2 separate regions of the Homo sapiens genome follow, and region 1 is linked to region 2. The links come from fine-mapping of genetic effects on gene expression. A gene starts in region 2. The other region holds a variant in brackets. All regions are shown on one strand. Distances are from middle to middle.

Region 1 (8,397 bases), 23 kb after region 2:
AAAGTTAGTGCTCTGTGAAATCATTTTCCTCATGAACCTGGTGAAATAAAAAAATGCTAGCCATAGCAGTGCCCTACATCTGAATCACAATTGCGTTATGTCCTAGTTTCCTTCCTGAATTCTTGAGAATGGTTAGACCTGCCTTGTGCACTTCACTAACCAGTGTAGACCTAGCCAGTGTAGACCTAGCCAGTGTAGAGGTCAGCTTTCTTGGATTTGCTAAGTCACCTCCTGCACGTACTTTCCAGCTTCCAGTATATTGTCGCCTCCTCTCCTATTCTCGCTTCCTTGAGGATTTGTATTTTTAAAAATGTTTCTTTACTGTAGTTTTAGAGGGGCATGGAGGTGGAGTAATATTAGATACATGTGTTCAATTTTCTATCTTTATCCAGAAATATGGGTTGGTTTTATGATAGTCATTATTCACTTTTAAATCAATACCAGGTGATAATTTTACCATTGTTATGAATAAAAATGTTTGTGTAGCTTGCATTCATTGATGCTTTGATCATATGCTTCTATATTTAAAAAACCAGATTATTCTCTTTCTCTTCTTCTCACTGCTGCACTTGACTAGTCTTAAAGAGAGAAAAAACCCCAGAATAACTGGACATCTCCAATTTAGATCTTGTTATAAATAATAGTTTGAGAATAATACATTTGTCTCCTAAAGGAATAATTATAACATCAATAGTGGTGGATAGAGATGAAATGGGAGGTTGAGGAAGACGGAGGGTTTGTGATTGTGGTCCTCAGAACCCATAAGGATGTGGCCTGAATAACATCGATTTTGATTCAAGAACCAGGAGAACATCATTATATTGTAAATGTTCCTTTAAATGGAAATACATAGATTTTAATTCTTCAAAGACAGTGAAATGTTTTTGGCAGCAAGTAATAGAAGTATAAAAGCAGTAGTTTAAAAAAGTTAAGGCTTTATTTTTCTTAAATAAATTTGCAGTAGAGTCCAGTGCTGATATGGCAGCTCTCTGGTGTGGCTAACAATCTCTCTACTCTAGTGTCTTGAATATATGGCTTTCATTCTAAGGATGCCTCATGATCACAAGTTGATTACTGCACCTCCAGCTATCACCTCTGTGTTCCAGGAAGGAGGAGGGTGTTAAGGGCAGGAGGCAAGTCTACGACTTGAGTCTACCTCAGCTTTGTAAGGAGCTTTCCTGGCAACCATTCTCCAGCTTTTGTGTCTTACTGGCCTGAACTTACTTAGTCATCCCTGTCCACAAGGAAGTCTGGGAAATGCTTTTTTCTGGGCCTGTTGCCATTTCCCATCATAGATCAGTGGTCTGTCAGTCACAAACTTGCAGTGTTGGTAAGAGCAACTCAATGCCTGTCATAGTGGTGTCACTCAAAGGCATGAAGACAGTAGCAAGGGAGAGATTCAGCTGCTTTCACAACTCTGGCTGGATTTTACCTATGTGGAGAGTGTCACCCATGTTAGGGAGCCTCTGGCCAGGAGGAAGCTGTGGCAAGATGTGCTGCGTCTCCTGCTTGGCATTGCCATCTTGCTGCCGTAAGTCTGTCTGTGGATAAAATACATTAGGAAATTGGGAAGTTAGATGAGGAGTTTGTGTGATCTTGCCCCACAGCCATAACTCGGAGTTTAACACTTCACATAGAGATCATTTCCCCCTTCACTACAGTAGAATTGTAAGTGTGGTATAGAAAATTTGGAAGATATCTGTGGGATTTTTATAGTCTTATCACATTAACATAGGTACTGTTGACATTTAGTATATTTTCATTTAATCTTTTTACCCATTTTTAAAATGATTTTACACCCAATATTATACTCCTCATTTCCTTACAGTTTTCATAACCCTTATTTTAACAGCTATATGATAATCTGTCTAGTAGGTATTTCCTGCTTAGCAGTTCCACTATTTTTAGTCATTTTCTTGGTTTTATAAGAAATAATGTAATCTTTGTGCATACAGTTTTTCCTGTATTTCGAGTCTTTTTTACTTAAAAAGAACTAGCAGTGTTTGATTATGGAGTTCAGCAGTGTTAGTAATTTTATTAGTCTCTGCACAGTGTGCCATTTCAGACTGCCGTCAGCACCGCGCAAGAGGCTTGCTTTCTTTGTACTCTTGTCAGCATTAATATTATTTTTGATCATTTAATGGATTAAAATTTGCCATATGCTTTACATTTGCATTTTTGATAACTTTGACCTTATACGTTTTTCCACATTAGTTAGTTGTATTTCCTCTTTTGCGAGCTGTCTGTTCATGCCCTGTGCTCTTTTACGTATCGTTGTTTTATTGCTTTTCTTGTTGCTGTGATTTCTATGAACTTTGTTTTTACTTAACTTTTTTTTATTCTAAAATACACATAACAGAATTTATCATTTGAACCATTTTTGAATGTACAGCTTGGTGGCATTAGGCACATTCACAAACCATTGCCACCGTCTGTCTCCAGAAGCCTTTTCATCTTCCCAAACTAAAACTCTGTCCCCATTGAACACGAATTCTCTTTACTCCTTTACCTGCCCCTGGAATGCCCATTTTACTTTCTGTCTCTATACATTTGATGACTCTAGGGCCCTCATATAAATGGAATCATATAGTATTTGTCCTTTTGTGACCAGCTTACTTCACTTAGCGTCTTCATGCTTCATCCATGTTGAAGCATGTGCCAGGATTCCTTTCTTTTTAAGGCTGAATAATATTCCATTGTACATAGATACCACATTCTGCTTATTCTCTGGAAGCTTTCATATAATTAAGATAGAAAGCTTCTTTTGTTGTTATATTTGCAGCAGGTTAGTTTTACTCAGTTAATTTTTTGCCTTTCTCTTTTGGTTATTTCATTTGGACATCCATAACTTTAAATTTGTATGTTGGTAAAACCCATTTTCCTTTGATGTTTGTATTTAATCTTCATCCATCTGGGATTTATTTGGATCATCATTTCACACTGAACTTAGACCCAGAGAGAATGCAGGGAGCCAGGGTTAATCTGATTCTTGTTGGTGATGTCTTCCTACAGGTCTGTTTTTGCTTCAGGTTAAATAGGCATCTCTTTGCTGGGAGGCAAGAAACCTTCCCCAGCTGTACTCAGAAATCTTCATACCTTCTTAACCTTTCTCTCCTGATACTTCCCCACCTCTACTCAGTTTAAATATTTTGTTTATTTCACTTATAATTATGCTTGGGTTCCTATTCAAGATGACAAACATAGGTTTCTTCAGTTAATATGTTATTTCTTCTGGAATGAGATACAATATTGGCTATTATGGCTGTTTATTGAGTACTTCTATGTGCCCAGCCCCATTCTAAGTGTTTATAAGTATTAACTCATTTTTAATGCCACCAACAACCCTCTGAGATAGGTGATGTTATTAGGCCCGCTTTTCAGATCGATAGGAGGTAGCTTAAGAGAGAGATTGTACACACTACTATTGGAATCTGC[A/G]TCTCTTACTCACGTGCTTTAAATGAAGGAAATCTAAAGTAGTAATCGCTAACATTTATACTTCTAACTGTGTTCTGGGCACTTCACTGCTATTAGCAGATTTAATCTCCTCAGCCCGAGTAGGCGCATTGAAATAAATACCATGTTGTGGAGTGCTTTTTAGGTTCCCTATTTGCAGCCTGTGTTTGAGTATGACTTCATTATTCTCCCTTCCACATTTTGAGATGGCTTCCTCTCTCCCATCCAGGAATTGATGGATTCTAATTACAGTGACTAAAACTTACTTGGGGCAGTGTGTTTGAACTTTTCACCAGCTGCTGTGCCAGAGTTTAAAGTGCCAGGCTAGTTGGTAGGTAGATTTGCTTGCTTGTTGTTTGAAGAAGTGATGCACACACAGTGCAGAACTGAAAAGGTGCTGGAAGATTTCTAGAGAGCGTGCCCCCCTCGCCTCTTTCCTGCCTAGAGGAAGCCGCCCTTACCCGTTCTTAGCCAGCTGATTGTTCATGTTCCAGGGGTGATTGTGTGTAGGCATATGGGTTAGCACACACTTGTTTTTGTTCTTTCTTTTTTTGTTGTTGTTTTTTTTGAGATGGAGTCTTGCTCTGTAGCCCAGGCTGGAGTGCAGTGGCACGATCTCAGCTCACCGCAACCTCCGCCTCCCGGGTTCAAGCAATTCCCCTGCCTCAAGCCTCCTGAGTAGCTAGGACTACAGGTATGTGCCACCAAGCCTGGCTAATTTTTGTATTTTTAGTAGAGACGGGGTTTCACTATGTTGGTCAGGCTGGTCTCAAACTCCTGAGCTCATGATCCGCCCACCTCAGCCTCCTAAAGTGTTGGCATTATAGGTGTGAGCCATTGCGCCCGGCTAGCACACAGTTTTATTTTACACAAATGGTAACACAATATGCATACTGTTGCACACCTTGGATTTTTGAATTAAACTTTTTTTTTTGGTTTAAATTGTAAAAAAAAACCCTAATACTATTTGTGCCCTATTAGCCATTTTTAACTGTACAATTCTGTAATGTTAACTATATTCACACTGTTGTGTAAGAGATTCTAGAACTTTTCCATCTTGCAAAACTGAAACTCCGTACTCATTGAACGAGTCCCCATTATTTCCCCTCTCCCCCGACCTTGTTTTTTGTTTTTGAGATGGAGTTAACTCTTGTTGCCCAGGCTGGAGTACAGTGGCACCACCTCAGCTCACTGCAACCTCTGCCTCCCGGGTTTAAGCAATTCTGCTGCCTCAGCCACCCGACTGGCTGGGATTACAGGCGTGCACCACCACGCCCAGCTAATTTTTGTATTTTTAGCAGAGATGGGGTTTCCCCATGTTGGCCAGGCTGGTCTTGAACTCCTGACCTCAGGTGATCCACCTGCCCCTGCCTCCCAATGTGCTGGGATTACAGGTGTGAGCCACACCACCCAGCCTGTTTTTTGTTTTTTTTTTTTTTTTTTTTTTTTTTTTTTGAGAGGGGGTCTCTATGTTGTCCAAGCTGGAGTGCAGTGGCTATTCACAGGTGCAGTCATACAGCCACTACAGACAGCCTCGACCTCCTGGGCTGGAGTGATCCTCCTGCCTCAGCCTCCTGAGTAGCTGGGACTACAGGCACACACCCGGCTACCACACCTTGTTTTTTAAAAATAGTTTTTGGCCTGGCATGGTGGCTCACGCCTTGTAATCCCAGCCTTTGGGAGGCCGAAGTGGTGGATCACTTGAGGTCAGGAGCTCGAGACCAGCCTGGCCAACATCGTGAAACCCTGTCTCTACTAAAAATACAAAACTTAACTGAGCGTGACGGCATGTGCCTGTAATCCCAGCTACTCTGGAGGCAGAGGCAGGAGAATTGCTTGAATTCTGGGAGGTGGAGTCTCCCAGAGATCCGAGATTGGGCTACTGCACTTGAGCCTGGTTGACAGAGTGAGACTCTGTCTCAAAAAAAAAAAAAAAAAAAAAAAAGTTTTCATTACAAATTGTTGAAGCAGAAGGATATTTAAGAATGTATACGGAATGGAGACACCTTTCTCTTTTTCACTTAACAATTCATCATAGAGATTGTTTCTTCATAGAGTTCATTTTTTTAAATTGTTCCAAAGTGTTTAGTGATGGGTATTTAGGTTGTTTCTGATCTTCTGATACAGACAATGTTGACTTTTTACCTTTCCAAGCTACTTTGTTTTAGTTGGGTCTCTTAACCTCAGAATGTAATTTGATTTTGTTTTTGTTTTTAACTGAGAGACTTTTAGTAGTTGAATTTCCCATTTGTATTTGCTGATAATTTTAGTAATAGCAACTCACTTCCATTGAACACATCTGTGTATCCAGTACTGCTCTAAGCACATTATTTAGACTGCCTTTAATCTTTCCAACTCTCTGAGTGGGGTACTAATTACCTGCACTTTACCCATGAGGAGACTCAGGGAGAGAGGAAATAGCTTACCAAGCCTAGTAAAGTGGAAGGCTGGGATTTGATCCCAGTCAGTTTGACTTCACATCTCTTAATCGGACTGGTATGGCATGCTACTGTGTGACAGATATGTTTGGTCTTAATTTAACTATTTTTTTAAAATGTTATGCTTCATGTTTTTAATGTACTTTATTTATGTATTAGTATTTTTTAACTGAAGACTTATTTTTCTCTTTGCTTTGTATTGGGTGTGTGTTCTTGGTAATGATTAAAAGGACTCATGTTTGCATATTTTAGTATAATTTGATATGTTTACCCTGTATTTGTTTAGGGGTAACTAGCTCCTTCCTGCTGTAATCAGTGACCAGGTTGGTATTGCCACATGTTCTTGCCTCCCCTTCCTTCTCTCCACCACCTGCTTTTGATTAATGATGTTACTAAACTTATTCCAGTGTTAACATTTATAACTTTATGTTTACTAATGCCTCTGATACTTTATCAGTTTTAAATAATATCTTTTGATTTCACTGTAAGAGGCAAGTGTCTTTACACTCTCTCCTTCTTTCCTTGTGCACTGCTCAACTTGATATCATTTTTTTCCATTAAAATTTATAACATTTACATTCTGTTCTTAATTCCCAGAAAATAAAAGTCTTTTTTTTTTTTTTTTTTTTTGAGACGGAGTCTCACTCCATCGCCCAGGCTGGAATGCAGTGGTGTGATCTCAGCTCACTGCAACCTCCGCCTCCCACGTTCAAGCAATTCTCCTGCCTCAACCACCCAAGTAGCTGGGACTACAGGTGCACACCACCATGCCTGGCTAATTTTTGTATTTTTAGTAGAGATGGGGTTTCCCCATGTTGGCCAGGCTGGTCTCAAACTCCTGACCTCAGGTGATCCGCCCGCCTCGGCCTCCCAAAGTGCTGGGATTACAGGCATGAGCCACCGTGCCCGGCCAAAGAAAAGTCTTTATTCCTACGTCTTAAATGGCTTCATTGCTCACTGTAAGTCTTTTGCTGGACTTTCTGCATTCTTCTTGAGTGGATAAAGTTTATCCTCTAATAGTTCATGAACCCATACATTTTGGCTCATGGGAATGAAATTTTCCAAGTTCTTGTATGTTTAAGGATATATATTTTTTCTCCTTAGTATTTTATTTTATTGTTTTTTTTTTAAATTGACACATAATGTGCATATTTATGGGGTACAGAGTGAAGTTTTGATACATATAATGTGTGGTTATCAGATCAGGGTAATTAGCATATCCATCATCTCAAATATTAGATATTTTGATTTTGTAACATACTTGATTGACACTGTGGCCAGATATAGAATTCTTGGGTCGTACCTTCTTCCCTTGAAGACTCTTAAGTGTGGCCCTATGTGTCCTAGTGTTAAATGTAGCCGTGTTGAAGGCTGAGGCTGATTGTACTTTCCCTGTCGTAGGGGTGTATTAGTCTACTCGGCTGCTGTAATTTTGTTTATACCACAGGTTGGGTGGCTTAAACAGCAGACAGTTCGTTGTTTTCTCACAGTTCTGGAGGTTAGAAGTCCAAGGTCGAGGTGCCGTCGGGGTTGGCTCCTGGCGCAGCCCTCTTCCTGGCTTGTATGTGGTCACCTTTCCTGCTGGGTCCTCACATGCCTTTCCCCTGTGTGAGCGTAGAGTGGGGAGAGAATAGGAGAGAGAGACTGATTTCTGGTGTCTCTTCCTTTTCTTAGAAGACCTTCCTCCAGTCCTGTCAAATTAGGGCCCCACCCCTATGACCTCAGGTAACCGTGATGACCTCTTGAAAGGCCCTATTTCCAATTATAGTACACTGGGAGTTAGGGCTTTAATGTATGAACTGGAGGTAGGGGGAGCACAGTTCATTCATAATAAAGGGTAATGTATACGTTTTGCCCAAAGGTCCAGAGACTTTTTATTTTTTCAGTTTTAAATACGAGATATAGACCCATATTTGTTGACAAGGAAAAATGTTCATAGTATATTGTTGAATGAGAAAAATCAAGTTTATTTATTCTTTTTCTGTTTCTGTTGTCTGTCATTTCCTCCTGTTTGATGATGGTTATTGTTTTAAAATAGATACTTGGATTCTTGGAAATGTCTTTGGAAATTCTTGGGAATTTTTATCTGCTTTGTTTCAATATTTTTCCAGATATTTTTTTTTTTCGGTCTTTTGGAGACAGGATCTTGCTCTGTCACCCAGGTTGGAGTGCAGTGGCACAATCTTGGTTCATGTAGTCTTCACCTCCGAGGCTCAAGTGGTCCTACCTCAGCCCCCGAGTAGCTGGGATCACAGGCATGTGCCACCACACTTGGCTGACTTTTAAATTTTTTCATAGAGGTGGGGTCTCCCAATATTGCCCAGGCTGGTCTCAAACTCCTGGACTCAAGTGATCCTCCCTCCTCAGCCTCCTAAAGTGCTAGGATGATGGGCGTGAGCTACCACGCCTGCCCCTGGATATGTGTTTTTGTCTGCCATTTGTTTTTCCTCTTTTCTCTGTCCCTTTTCTTTCTCTTTGAGTGTTTTTATATCACTGTTGGCTGGCT
Region 2 (8,397 bases):
CGCCCAGACTGTAGTGGAGTGGTACAATCTTGGCTCACTGCAGCCTCAACCTCCCAGGCTTAAGCGATCCTCCCACCTCAGCTCCCAAGTAGCTGGAACTACAGGTGTACACCAACACACCTGACTAATTCTTTTAATTTTTTTGTAGAGACAAGGTCTCACTATGTTGCCCAGGCTGGACTCCAACTCCTGGGCTCAAGCAATCTTCCTTCCTTGACCTCCTAAAGTGCTGGGATTACAGGTGTGAGTCACCACGCCCGGCCCGGTGCAAGAACTTATGTCAAAGTGGCTACAAGATTGTTTAAAAGGAGACAGATGAATGTAACCCCATGTTTACTGCTAGAAACCAAAGCTTTATGTGAAATCTTGAATTTAGGGGCAGGGAGGGAGGGTAGAAAGGCTTGTACCTTCCCTGATCCCTGCCCCTCAGTCCTGAACTGCAGGAGACCAGGGCCCCTTGGGCTTTGGTTACTCCATCTCTGGGGTGCATCTATTGGATGGCTGATTTTTCTGTACCAGGTACTTCCTTTCCCATTTTCTAATCACTTTGCAACACACATGCTGACCCTTTTCACTTCCCTTCTCCTTTCCCTGGAAAGATATAATGAATACATAAAGACTTACTGGTACTGAAACTCAAAAAAAAAAAAAGATAAAAAAGATCTGACAATGAGTGATGCTAAACATTACTCACCAGGGTAATGTTTAAAAAGGGTCACCAGAGATGGCAGGGCTGCCTATAACAGGTGACGAGATGGCTAAGAAGGCTCAAGCAAGACTCTGGCCAGAAAGAGGAGCTCCTCCCAGCCAGAAGAACCTCAGAAGGGTTAAGTGGCAACAACTTCAAGTCCATCTCGCAAGAACTTTCAGCCACCAATAAATCCAAGAACTGAAGGCCTACTGCAAGGTGGCGCTTGTGTAGGGGCTAGGTAAAGCTGCAAAGGAAACACAGGCTGCTGTCCTGGGCCCACAACTGCTCTTGGATGTCACACTGGAGGGGACTTAACTCTCACTTCATGATTGAGGAAACTGCAACCCCAGAGTGTGAACATCCAGGCCTCCAGAGGCCATCTGCAGAACGGGGTCACCCTCCAAAGTATTTTTTTTTTTTTTTTTTCAGACTGGGTCTTGCTCTGTCACCCAGGCTGGAGTACAGTGGCATGATCTACCTTGTTGCAACCTCTGCCTCCTGGGCTCAAGTAATCCTCCCAAACTCAGCCTCCCAAGTAGCTGGGACTTCAGATGTGCACCACCACACCCAGCTAATTTTTGTGTTTTCTGTAGAGACGGGATTTCACCATGTTGCCCAAGCTGGTCTTGAACTCCTGGGATCAAGCAATCCCCCTGCCTCAGCCTCCCAAAGTATTGGGATTACAGGTGTGAGCCACTGCACCCAGCACACCCCAAAATCTTCATCTTAAGACCTACCCAGTTACCCCAGGACACCAATCTTGTTCTGTTTCCCAATTAGCTTTGTCTCATCATAAATGCTATACTCTGCAGATACTCTTGATTCACTCAATCATTTAACAGAAATTCATCAAATGTCTACTATGAGCCAGCACTCTGCCTTCAAGATATGAACAGAGGAGAGTAGCTGCCTGGCTGGCACTTGGGGCTCAGGATGAGACGACAACCTAGAAATGGGCTCATCATTAGACCAGGGGGAAAGTGGGGTATGGTGCTATGAGGCGGGGAGGGATCCCTGGGGGGCCCCCGGGCTGACCTACTGAGAAACAGGGTCTATTACACTGAAGAGCTTAGACCCGTCTTGCAAGGTGTTGTTTACCTTAGGCTATTGCTTCACAATCTTCAACCCTCGCAGGCCCGTCAGGTAGATCTGGGATTTTGTGTCATCACTGGTACAACAGTGACACCACCATGTTCTCTTCCACAGAAGTACTTTAGGATGACAGTGCAGCTGGCACTGTTGAGAGCCAACCTTGAATCCAAATGAATCTAAAACGTAAATTTTAAAAAGAAAGTCATTGATAAATTTCAGTACTTTATAACTAAGAAGTTACTTGTGGCCAGGTGTGGTGGCTCACGCCTGTAATCCTAGCACTTTGGGAAGCCAAGGTGGGTGGACTGCTTTGAACTCAGGGGGTTGAGACCAGCTTGGGCAAGATGGCGAAACCTTGTCTTTACAAAAAAAATACAAAAAAATCAGCCAGCTGTGATGGCCTGTGCCTGTGGTCCCAGCTTCTTGGCAGTCTGAGGCAGGAAGATGGCTTGAGCAGGGAAGTGGAGATTGCAGTGAGCCGTGATTGCACCACTGCATTCCAGCCTGAGCAACAGAGCCAGACCCTGTCTCAAAAAAAAGAAGTTACTTGTGACACACATCACCACAGCTGACAACACATTGGAGGCCTACAACCACAACAAGACAAGATTCCAAGGGCTTCTAAGCTGAAGCACGGCCTTTTGGGCTGCACGCCTGCCCATAGTCGATCATGTGGGCAGCAGTCAGGAAAGCGCCCTAGCCAGGCCACATGGGAAGCAGGCACATCCCTGGGAGGCAAAAGGGAAAGCGGGCCAGGCCGGGGTGACGGCAGGGCGGGGTGATGGCACAATGCATGGAGGAGACTGTGGGGAGAGCTGTTCAGGAGGTGGCCCATGCCTAAGCCTCAAGTGGAAGAGGAGGAATGATGGAGAGCGCCTCCACAGTGAGCCTCTTTCCTCATACAGGTCCATGTGGGCTATTTTGGGGCAAATCTTCAGGCAAGTTTCTAGAGAAACTGAAGGAAAACACCAGAGGGGGCTGCCCAGGTAATGCTGACAATACAGGGAGGTGAGAGGATGAGCAGATCTCAAAGGTGACTGAGAGGCAGAGGGGAGAGACAAGGAAAAACCAAAGTAAAGTGAAGTTAGGGAAACCAAGAAAAGACTTTCCAAAAGCAGTGGTCAGCGGGGTCAAAGGTCCCTTCAGTGGGCGGTACAGCAGGAAGTGGGGGAGAAGCAGGAACCGGGAATGCTGGAGGTGGGGATGGGAGGGAAAAGGCTTGGCTCTGTCCCTAAACAGAGAGAAGGTGACCTGGGAAGAGCGGGGAGGCTAACTACACAGGGAAGAGAAGCTTCCTGGAGAAAGGGATCCAGGGCACAGGCGGTGGAAGGGATTGGCCTCAAGAGACCAGGAAGAACTCTCATTTTTCCTGACAGAGAAAGTAGGATGGGTCTGGTAGCAGGCAAGTCCTGGAGTGCTGTGCAGAAGGGAAGTGAGGCAGCTTATGCCTGAGAGCCAGGCATGTTGATTGCTCACGGGGAGCCGTACATCTGTAAAGGCAGCCAGCGGCTGGCTGAGTGATCTGGCTTAGCCTGGGCTGGGAAGCACCTCCGCACACTGGCTCAAGAAATTAGACCTATTCTTCTCGCTGCTCTCACCAAGCCTTTTCCCAAGTGCGTGCCCAGAAGGAAAGCGGCCACTCTTCTACTTCTCTTGTGCCTGCAAGAGAAGTAGAACCCCACCCTGGGCATTCCATGATTATGCCAGGCCTTTCTCACTCCGCCCAGTCCCTCTCCAGCCCCTCTGCTCTCAACTCCAGCACTGCAGGGGGACAGAGTGTCTACTCCACCCCCACCAGGCAGGGGATTTTAAGCACCTGCTGGGCCCTCAAGTCTCATCTTCCTCCACAACATCTGTGAGAAGATTGAAAGGTGGTGAGAGAAAGGGATAGGAGGAGATGAACGTGTGAAAGGAAAAGAGGAGAGCAAGCCATTGCATGTTTTGGGGTTTTGTCCCACACGCAAATTTGACTACTTATAAAGTCTAAGCAAGATGTTTTAAATAATAATCATGCATCATTAGGTTTCATACTGTGCAAAAAAAATGACACAAAGTGAGATCTGTTACAAACGACACGGCAGCACTCTGCTACTTTCTGGAAGCTTAGGGCTAACAATGGAGTCAGAGCATGGCATCCAGAGCCCGTCTCTGAGCACGGCCGTGATCCTGCTCCAGCACACGCCTCGGTTTCCTCGTCTACATTACGGGAATAGTAACAGCACCCGCCTCATGAGATTGTTAGTGTTAAACGAGTTAATTAATACCACAGTATTTCAGGGCAGTTCTCGGCACAGAGGGAGAGATGGGTAAGGGCTGGCTGTTCCGGAAGATTCTGGCCTCTCCCAGTGTGTTTCGGCGCGAGGGCACCGCTGGCCCAGCAGGTGGCCCCCCGGGGCCGGCACGGGCCCCGACAGCCGCCCCCTTCCCTGAACCTCGGCGGCCCAGTCCCCGCTTACCTGAGGGGTGGAGCCGGCAGCCTGCGGAGCCACTGGCCAAGCTGGGAAGTCCGGCGCAACTCCGCACCGCAGAGCCGGCGCCTCCTCGGCAGGTAAGAGCCGCAGCCCCGCCGCCCGCCGCCTGGCGGCCCCTGACCCCTGGGCCGCGTGCCCACCACCCAACTTGTTGGCCAGCGTGCTTCTCCCAGCGCCGCAGGCCTGAGCTCCCGGAACGCGCCCAGGGGGCCTGGCCAAAGGCCGTAGTGGGCGCTCTGGATTCCGGGATGCGCCAGGGGTTACTTCCGGAAGCGCAGCCTGCGGGGGTCTTCGCGCGCACCCCCCGCCTCGCAGTTGGTACGTTCCTCCTACCTGCGGTGCCTGAGTGCGCAGGCGTGGGCAGCGAGGCGGTGCGGCCGGAAGCGAAGGGGCCGTGAGGTCAACAGTCGGTAATCGTTTATCGGTGCGGCCTTAGAGAAAGGACCTCCAAGCCCTTGTTCAATACATGTTGGGTGGTGGTCACAGGTGCCAGTCTCCGGACGGATGGCGGCCTAGATTTCCTCCCGGACTCGGTGGCACCCAAGGCCCCCTGCACGCCGGCGCTGTGCGTGCCAGGCTGACCGCCCGAGTGCGACCCGGACCTCGTCCGCACGTGCAGATGGAAGGGGCCACAAAGACGATAAGGATCCAGGTCTCCCGCGTGGAAGGCTCATCTATCGGTCGGTTCAGGAAATCCACCCAGGGTGTCTCCTGGTGTTATCAGAAAGGGGTCCCGATCCAGGCCCTAAGAGAGGGTTCTTGGATCTCATGCAAGAAAGAATTCAGGGCAAGCCCATAGAGTAAAGTGAAAACAAGTTTATTAAGAAAGCAAAGAAGTAAAAGGATGGCTACTCCATAGGCAGAGCAGCTCCAGGGCTACTGGTTACCCATTTTTTGGTTATTTCTTGATTATATGCTAAACAAGGGTTGAATTATTCATGAGTTTCAGAGAAAGGGGTGGGCAGTTCCCGGAACTGAGGCTTCCTCCCCTTTTTAGACCATATAGAGTATTTCATGATGGTGTCATGGCGTCTGTAAACTGTCATGGTGCTTGCTGGTGGGAGTGTCTTTTAGCATGCTAATGCATTATAATTAGTGCATAATGAGCAGTGAGGACCACCAGAGGTCCCTCCCATTGCCATATTGGTTTTGGTGGCGTTTAGCCAGCTTCTTTACTGCAACCTGTTTTATCAGCAAGGTCTGTATGACCTGTATCTTGTGCCAACCTTCTGTCTCATCCTGTGACTTAGAATGCCTAACCTCCTATGAATGCAGCCTCATTTTACCCAGCCCTTATTCAAGATGGAGTAATTCTGGCTTAAACACCTCTGACACTGGGGCAAATGCCTGCTGCCTGATGACTCCCACAAGTCCTTAACACCTAACCCAGAGAACATCTGGGCCTGCATCCACTCTGGTGCTCTGCCACTCCTGCAGCTACAAATTGTGTGGGAGCCGAAGAAGTCATGTTCCCTGGACGAGCACAAAATGCCTGTTTGTCCCATGTTGGTTCCACATGTGCACCAAAGTGAACAACTTTTGTCTCCCTGGCTACCTTGAACTTCTTTCCACCTCCTCAGTTGGACATATTCAAGGGGCTGGCCCGGGGGCAGGCTTCCCTAGTCTTCCCAGGGGCAACCTCAGCTTTTCCCATATCTTTCAGATGACCCTTCTCCTGCCCCAAGCAAATTAATGCCAAGCCAGTCTAGTTCTCCAGCTTGGGCTACAGCTGGGACCCCTGCCCAAGAATAGTGATTTTTATCTTTACACTTTATCCAAGTTTTTTATTTTTATTTTTATTTTTTTGAGATGGAGTCTCACTCTCTTGCCCAGGCTGGAGTGCAGTGGTGTGATCTCAGCTCACTGCAACCTCCACCTCCTGAGTTCAAGCGATTCTCCTGCCTCAGTCTCCCAAGTAGCTAAGACTACAGGCGTGAACCACCACACCTGGCTAATTTTTGTATTTTTAGTAGAGACGGGGTTTCGCCATATTGGCCAGGGTGGTCTCAAACTCCTGACTTCAAGTGATCTGCCCGCCTTGGCCTCCCAAAGTGCTGGGATTGCAGGTGTGTGCCACCCTGCCCAGCCATATGCAAGTTATTTTTAATTTCAGTTGATCTCCATGCCTCGGAGATGGAAGTATTAGTTTCTCCATTATATGGATCAGAAAATTGAGACTCACACAGCATGTTACAGTAGGAAATGGCACTAAAAGAAAAATTATTCAAACAATTGTTAAGGTGAGAGACTTTATTCAAGAACAGCTGCAATAGGGATTATGCAATAGGGGCAAAAAAATCAGGCTTAACATCAAATACAAGGACAGGTGGAGATTTATAGTTAAGCAACAGGGTGGAAGTCAGCAGATGGAAAATTACTAAGAGGACACATAAAGGTTAGGGAGATTTTTGCTGAACACAAGCCGAGGTGATCAGATACCAAGGGTAGGGGATTTTTGCTGAACTGACTCAGCAGGATTCTTGCTAAAACTGAACTAAGTGAGTTAAGGACCAGCCCAGGGTCAGGGCCTAGTCAAAACGAGGACTGAGAGGAGCCTGACTCAAGTTTAGTCAAAGAGTGAGTTCTTTTCATGAGCTACCAATGATTTGAGTTGTATTGTCAGAGGTGTCCTAACTAGAGTGACACTATCCTAAATAAAGGCTGGGGAAGGCAAGACCTGCTGGGTTGCATTCCCAGGAAGTCAGCACTCTTGATCACAAGATGTTTATTGTTGAGGAAACAAGTTAATGGAAAAAGGCATTCTTGTTTTTGTTTTTGTTTTGGAGATGGAGTCTCACTCTGTTGCCCAGGCTGGAGTGCAATGCCACCATCTCGGCTCACTGCAACCTCTGCCTCCCGGGTTCAAGTGATTCTCCTGCTTCAGCCTTCGAAGTAGCTGGAATTACAGATGTGCGCCACTTTACCTGGCTAATTTTTATATTTTTAGTAGAGACGGGGTTTTGCCATATTGGCCAGCCTGGTCTCAAACTCCTGACTTCAAGTGATCCACCCACCTCAGCCTCCCGAAGTGCTGGGATTACAGGCTTGAGCCATGGCGCCTGGCCTGGAAAAAGGCATTCTTAATTTAAACTATATTTTGCTCTAAAGATAATAGTCCACTCATAAATTCTTTCTGAAATTAATTGCACAAGAGAATAACAATACAGATAGTCTGTCACAAGCCGATCACAAGCCTTTGTAATAAAATACACTATTCTTAGCTCTAATATCCTACACAAACAAGCATTACATTTGAGGTAGGGCGTTCTTCCTCTTGCTTCCTGAGGATACCCTACTCTAATAGATTAGTTTCTAATAAACCATTTAAACTTTACTGTACTTTGCGACTCACCCTAAATTCTTTCCTGTGCAAGATCCAAGAACCTGCCCTTGGGGTCTGGGGTGAAACCCCTTTTCTGGTAAGAGTACTGTTACATGGGATCCACACTATGGGCTCAGAGTTGGTCCCTTTCCAGCGTTAATCCAGAAACACTCTAAAACAAGGAGTTTCTTACTCAAAAGAGGGCAAAAGACCAGTCAGGGATGGATTGGCAGAGGAAGAACGGAAGGAAATGCTGATCTTCCTGTAGGTACAAAACTTGTCACTGCAGCCAAGCCAAGTTTCAGGAGGGTTGACCTAAAATCATCTCGTTTTGCTAGGTGTTTTACAAAGGATAAATAGGACTGGCTCCTGCCCCTAGAGCTTCCAGATACAGCATCCCTGTTTGCCCTGTTTGCAGGGGTGACAGAAAGTGGGAAGTAGCTACATTAGCTGCTAACTCTGTCTCGGGTCAGGGGAGAGGTTGGTAGGGTTAGCCCCAACAGTGTTTTAAAATGCAGAGTAATTGTCAAGACTGGAGTCTGGGCAAACAAACAATAAATAAATAAATACAAAGTAATTGGATGGACAAAGTGCTTTGCCTCCATCTTCCCAAAGTCAAAGGCACCTGAATTTGCCATCCTGCCCTAACTCTTCCTGGACCATTTCATAGCCTTGTGGAATGTCAGAGCTAGACAGACCCTTAAGAAGTTTGTTCTGGGCCAGGCGAGGTGGCTCATGCCTATAATCCCAGCACTTTGGGAGGCCGAGGCAGGCAAATCACCTGAGGTCAGGAGTTCAAGACCAGCCTGAGAAACATGGAG

What was found. PIP is the estimated chance that this variant, and not a neighbour inherited with it, causes the effect. A credible set is the group of variants that fine-mapping cannot tell apart.
Region 1: its variant is the best candidate, but not a certain one, in a credible set for the expression of LRRC61 in whole blood (TOPMed, PIP 0.64).

The regions. Positions count from the first base shown.
Region 1 is chr7:150,295,976-150,304,372 of GRCh38, reverse strand. The region is part of intron 1 of ACTR3C (actin related protein 3C); the gene reads left to right. Among named protein-coding and RNA genes, the nearest start is that of LRRC61, 23 kb to the left of the region's middle. The variant A/G (reference allele first, on the strand shown) is at 3,436.
Region 2 is chr7:150,319,403-150,327,799 of GRCh38, reverse strand. LRRC61 (leucine rich repeat containing 61) reads right to left here and starts at 4,445. Exons shown (of 3, transcript NM_001142928.2): 1 at 4,240-4,445; 2 at 1,790-1,959. It overlaps ACTR3C (actin related protein 3C), which reads left to right and starts at 4,255. Exons shown (of 8, transcript NM_001164458.2): 1 at 4,255-4,331. RefSeq lists enhancers at 3,616-3,685, 5,006-5,065, 5,116-5,225 and a silencer at 4,076-4,395.